2 separate regions of the Homo sapiens genome follow, and region 1 is linked to region 2. The links come from fine-mapping of genetic effects on gene expression. A gene starts in region 2. The other region holds a variant in brackets. All regions are shown on one strand. Distances are between the middles of the regions. Region 1 has its middle 10 kb from the start of PNMA8B. Region 2 holds the start of PNMA8A (PNMA family member 8A).

Region 1 (2,910 bases), 35 kb before region 2:
TGGCCAGGCTAGTCTCGAACTCCTGACCTCAGGTGATCCACCGGCCTCGGCCTCCCAAAGTGTTGGAATTACAGGCGTGAGCCACTGCGCCCAGCCCAGCTTTTTGTTTTCTTTTGCAAATAGTGGGTTAACATTTTTTAGCATTTTCTAAGGTGGAACATGATGAGGCTTGACTAAGGTTGAAATCCATATTTCATGGTCCGCTCTAGTGTGAATGGAATCACTGATACACTTCATCCTATATCTTGCTTCTCTGCAACAATAGAACATGGCCAGTTGCCAGGAAATACATTGGGACCCAGCTCACTGTTTTTCATCATCACATGAAAATCCACAGAAAGTCTGTGAAGTAATTTATTCACTCTTTTCATCATTATGAATTCGTAGTTATTAGTGGTTCATATCTGATCTCCCTATGATGTCAGCCAGGCCCTGGTCTGATGTAGTCACAGTCATATCCCACACGTGTGGGTTCTTTGTGTTTGCTAAATGATTAAATGAACAAATGAATGAATGAGTGCTGAGGAGGGATGGTGCTGCTGAAAGTCTGCCTAGTATCCCTGTTAGAATCAGAGGTTTGGAGCCAGACACGGTGGTTCACGCCTGTAATCCCAGCACTTTGGGAGGCCAAAGCGGGCAGATTATGAGGTCAAGAGATCGAGACCATCCTGGCCAACATGGTGAAACCCCGTCTCTACTAAAAATACAAAAGTTAGCTGGACGTGGTGGCAGGTGGCTGTAATCCCAGCTACTTGGGAGGCTGAGGCAGGAGAATCACTTGAACCCAGGAGGCGGAGGTTGCAGTGAGCCGAGATCACGCGACTGCGCTCCAGCCTGCTCACAGAGCAAGACTCCATCTCAAAAACAAACAAACAAACAAACAAAAGAATCAGAGGTTTGGAGTCACAGAGACCTGAGGTCAAATTGATGTCTCACCACTTCCCAGTTGTAAAAGACCTTCCACCCTGCGTGTGTGTGCACACACACACAGCCTCAGATTTCTCATCTGGGAAATAGAGATAATAATGGGGCTGGCTTTACATGACTGTGGTGAAGATTAAATGAAGCAATATATTAAAGGCTATTCTAGCCAATGTCTGGCATAAGATCATCCCTTGGCATGGTGTGTGTGATGTTATAATTCCTCCTTTCCTTTCTTCCTCCATCTGTTCAATACAAGATTTACTGAGCACCATGTTATACTATCCTCTTTGTATTATAGAAATGTTATTCACATTTAACAATATATTATTGGAGCAACAGAAAGAGCTAAAATACCTTTAGGAATTGCATTGGGCTCTGTTCAAAAAAGTCAACAATTAGCCGGGTGCGGTGGCTCACGCCTGTAATCCCAGCACTTTGGGAGGCCAAGGCGGGCGGATCACAGGTCAGGAGATCGAGACCATCCTGGCTAACACAGTGAAACCCTGTCTCTACTAAAAATACAAAAAATTAGCCGGGTGTGGTGGCGGGCGCCTGTAGTTCCAGCTACTCAGGAGGCTGAGGCAGGAGAACGGCGTGAACCCAGGAGGC[A/G]GAGCTTATAGTGAGCCGAGATAGTGCCACTGCACTCCAGCCTGTGCAACAGAGCGAGACTGTCTAAAAAAAAAAAAAAAGTCAACAGTTGTGGTGGTAAAAGCACAAACAGCAATGAGAAAATGGGAAAACACTATGAACAGGATATTTAAAGAAGGGGATTTCCAAATAAACTAAAAAAGAGATGTGCAAACTCATTTGTAGTTGGAGAACAATGAGCTACCACCTTATGCCCATGAGATGGGCAAATCCTAGAAGCCTGGACAATCTCCAGAGGTGGGAGTGGGCACTGGGGGCACAGGAATCCTCATATGTGAGCAAATAGGGACATTCATTGCACTGAGTGACTTGTAGGACTTGGTAGAGTTAGGAATACGCAGACCCTAGTCAGGCGCAGTGGCCCATGCTGTAATCCGGCACTTTGAGAGGCTTAGGAAGGAGAATTGCTTGAGCCCAGGAGTTCGAGACCAGCCCAGACAACATAGTGAGACCCTATCTCTACAAAAATTTTTTTAAAATAAGCAAGACGTGGTGGTGCATACCTGTAGTCTCAGCTACCCAGGAGGCTAAGGCAAGAGGATCACCTGAGTGCAGGAAGTCAAGGCTGTTGTGAGCCATGATGGCTACTGTCACTCGGTGACAAAAATAAATAAATAAATAAAGGAATATGCAGACCCAAGCAATTCTGCTCCTGGGACCTATGCCAAGGGCAGTCTCAGTGTCTCATTCTCATTCAACATCATAAGAAAATGTGTACAAGAACATTTATGGTAGAGTATTTGTGCTGTGTGTATGTGGGAGCAGGAGATGGATCTGGGTGTGCACTGGTTACTTTCGCTGTGTAACAAACCAACCCTCACTTAGTGTCATAAAGCAGCAACATCTCATTATGCCCATAGATTCCATGGGTCCATAGTTATGAAAGGGGATGGCTTCTTTTGGCCCCATAATGTGTGGGGCCACAGCTGGGATGACCCCAATGGCTAGGGTCTGGAATCATCTGGAAGCTTCATCACTCATATGTCCGGTGCCTGGTTTGAGATGATTTGAAGACTGGACTTAGTTGGAGCTGTTGACTTGAGCACCTACATGCAGAGCTCTCCATGTGAGTTGGGCTTCCTCACGGCATGGCAGCTAAGTTCCAAGCAGTAATTATTCCAGAAGAACCAGGCAAAAGCCTTTTATAACTAACCTTGGAAGTCACCTAGCATCCAGCTAACCTTGAAAGACACAGAGCAAGTGGATGTACACTAGCAGTTGAGGTAGTCACAAACTCACCCAGATTCAGCTTCAAGGAAAGAGGAGGTAGATCTCACCTCTCAGCAGAGTTAAAGAACTTGCAGCAATGTTTAACAACCATGCAGCCCCATTCAGCAG
Region 2 (2,910 bases):
GGCCAAAACCTGGAAAAGGCACCGAAAGCCTCTCTCCATAAGACATGCCTGCCAGCACCATGACAGTTTACCATTGCCATGGCAACACCCATAAGTTACTGCCAATTTGCTAATTCTGAAAACCCACCCCTTAATTAGCACGTCATTAAAAGTGGGTATAAATGTGACTGCAGCCTTGCCCCGAGGTGCTATTCTCAGCACACTGCCTAGAGGGTAGCCCTCCTTGTTAGGTTTTGGAGGGAAGGTGAGGGTTAAAGACACACAGACAGAAGGCGGCTCAACAGCAACTCAGGTATACTGCAGACACCTGTGGAAGTGGGTAACCAGCCTAATGCCAGAGCCCACTGCTGCTTATAGGCTGGGGGTACTTATAGTTATGGGTGGGAGGGGTCTGAGCAGTATGGTTTGCTGCCCAGCAGGATGTTGATAAGATGGTTCCATGATGAGGCGGTTCTGGCCCTTGTTCTGGTGGAATGTGGTGTTCTCTGCACTTTCTCCCAGCAGAATATGATAGGGATGTTTCTTCAGTTGGGCCTTTGCACGATAGGGTATGATAATGTTTCTTTAGCTGGGCCTTTGTCCGCCTTGTGGTCAGGTGATTAGGCAGGATGTTTCTCATTGGCCCGAACCCCCGTGGAATATTTCACTTTGACCAAGATCTGCAAAATAGTCAGGGCTTACAAAATGGTTGCAGTTTGGACTAACACTTCTCTGTAGGGGCAGTCACTGAGCTGTAACATTGTCCCCTGCCTGGAGGATGCCAAGAACCTGCCCTGAATCACGTTGAGGAAACAAGAAAAGGCGAGGCATTATCCTCATGCTAGAAGGGGTCGGGGAGGAGACTAAGAAATTTCTAGAAGTTTCTGGAAATTCCTGGAAGAACCCAGCAGCTTGTAAGAGAGAAGGCTACAAGCCCAACAGGAACTGCACCTGCTGTTGGAGGAACCCAAGAAGATTAAAGCCTCGTTTTCCTCCTTTCTTGATTTCTAGTGTCTCCCAAGAGTTGCGTTGGGTGAATCCAACAGGTGGGGCAGAGGATAATACAGTCAGTGGGTGCAGCCATAGGTGTTGGCGCTTCTCATCGACCTAACCCCCGTTCGCGAGGCCCACTTGGGTTGAAAGAGGGCCTCCGTGGAGGCGCCACCGGAGTGTATCCAGACCCGCTTGCTCTGCGACCTGAACAGGCCACTCTTGCACCCGGCTCCCTAGGTCCAATTGCAGCGCCGGCGCGCCGGCCGGGCTCAGCCCTAGCAACCCACGCCCGGTTGCCATGGAGACGTCGGCACCTGCGCAGCCCAAGACCCCCGAGCGGCGGTGCGGGAGCCAGTGCGCAGGCGCGCGCTGCGACGCCAACCTCGGCTTCTCGCCGCTAACGGCATCGAGTCTGGACGCCCCGTGACCCGCCTGGGCCGGAGCGGGGGCGGACGGCGCCTTCTTGGCCCTTTCTGCCTCTAGCAGCGGCGCCGGGGTAGCCGGAGCCAGCGACTGGGAAACGGCTGCATTCCACTGCGTCTCCTTGGCCTGGCTGGGCGGTCGGAGGCTGATCTGCCAAGTAAGTCCCGGCTGGGCAGGCGGAGCGTCAGGCCCGGGGGAGGGTCCTAGGGCCTTTTGCTGCAGATTCAGGGACACGTGTGAGCACCGGGGCCTGGGTTGGGGAGGAGGGTGTTGGGAAAGCGCCAGGCCTCCTGCAGGCCAGCCGCGGAGGGGGCAGCTAGGATCTGTGAGCTTGGTCATCTTCCTGGGAACGTGACCTCGCTCCCTTGTCACCTTGCAGGATTACTGTTTGGAGACCGCTGCAGCCCACGTCCACCTGATAGACTATTTACTACACATAGTAGGTTCAGAGCCGCTAAATGTCCAAGACCATGGCGATGAACCTTCTGGAGGATTGGTGCAGGGGAATGGAAGTGGACATCCACAGGTCCTTGTTGGTCACAGGCATCCCAGAGGACTGTGGGCAGGCAGAAATTGAGGAGACCTTGAATGGGGTCCTCTCCCCACTGGGCCCGTACCGCGTGCTCAACAAGATTTTTGTGAGGGAAGAGAATGTTAAAGCTGCCCTCATTGAGGTTGGTGAAGGTGTGAATCTGAGCACCATCCCCCGTGAATTCCCAGGAAGGGGTGGTGTCTGGAGAGTGGTCTGTAGAGACCCTACCCAGGATGCCGAGTTTTTAAAAAATCTGAATGAATTCCTGGATGCCGAGGGGCGCACCTGGGAGGATGTGGTCCGCCTGCTCCAGCTCAACCACCCCACCCTGTCCCAGAACCAGCATCAGCCCCCAGAGAACTGGGCAGAAGCTCTGGGGGTGCTTCTGGGAGCAGTGGTGCAGATCATCTTCTGCATGGATGCCGAGATCCGCAGCCGGGAGGAAGCCAGGGCCCAGGAGGCCGCTGAATTCGAGGAGATGGCAGCCTGGGCTTTAGCAGCAGGGAGGAAGGTGAAGAAAGAACCGGGGCTTGCAGCAGAGGTGGGTTCTGCCTTAAAGGCAGAGACCCCCAACAACTGGAATGCCACGGAAGACCAGCATGAGCCTACCAAACCTTTGGTTCGCAGGGCTGGAGCTAAGTCTCGCTCCAGGAGAAAGAAGCAGAAGAAGAACTCCAGGCAGGAAGCAGTGCCCTGGAAAAAACCCAAAGGCATCAATTCCAACAGCACAGCTAACTTGGAGGATCCTGAGGTGGGTGATGCTGAAAGCATGGCGATCTCAGAGCCGATCAAGGGCAGCAGAAAGCCCTGTGTGAATAAGGAGGAGTTGGCTTTGAAGAAGCCCATGGCGAAATGTGCCTGGAAGGGTCCCAGAGAGCCACCTCAGGATGCCCGGGCAGAAGCCGAGAGCCCAGGAGGCGCCTCTGAGTCAGACCAAGATGGTGGCCATGAAAGCCCACCAAAGAAGAAGGCCGTGGCCTGGG

The links. PIP is the estimated chance that this variant, and not a neighbour inherited with it, causes the effect.
Region 1: its variant is the best candidate, but not a certain one, in a credible set for the expression of PNMA8A in ileum (GTEx, PIP 0.53).

The regions. Positions count from the first base shown.
Region 1 is chr19:46,504,645-46,507,554 of GRCh38, reverse strand. No RefSeq gene overlaps it. Among named protein-coding and RNA genes, the nearest start is that of PNMA8B, 10 kb to the right of the region's middle. The variant A/G (reference allele first, on the strand shown) is at 1,534.
Region 2 is chr19:46,469,979-46,472,888 of GRCh38, reverse strand. PNMA8A (PNMA family member 8A) reads left to right here and starts at 1,326. Exons shown (of 3, transcript NM_018215.4): 1 at 1,326-1,552; 2 at 1,775-2,910. The coding sequence starts at 1,854.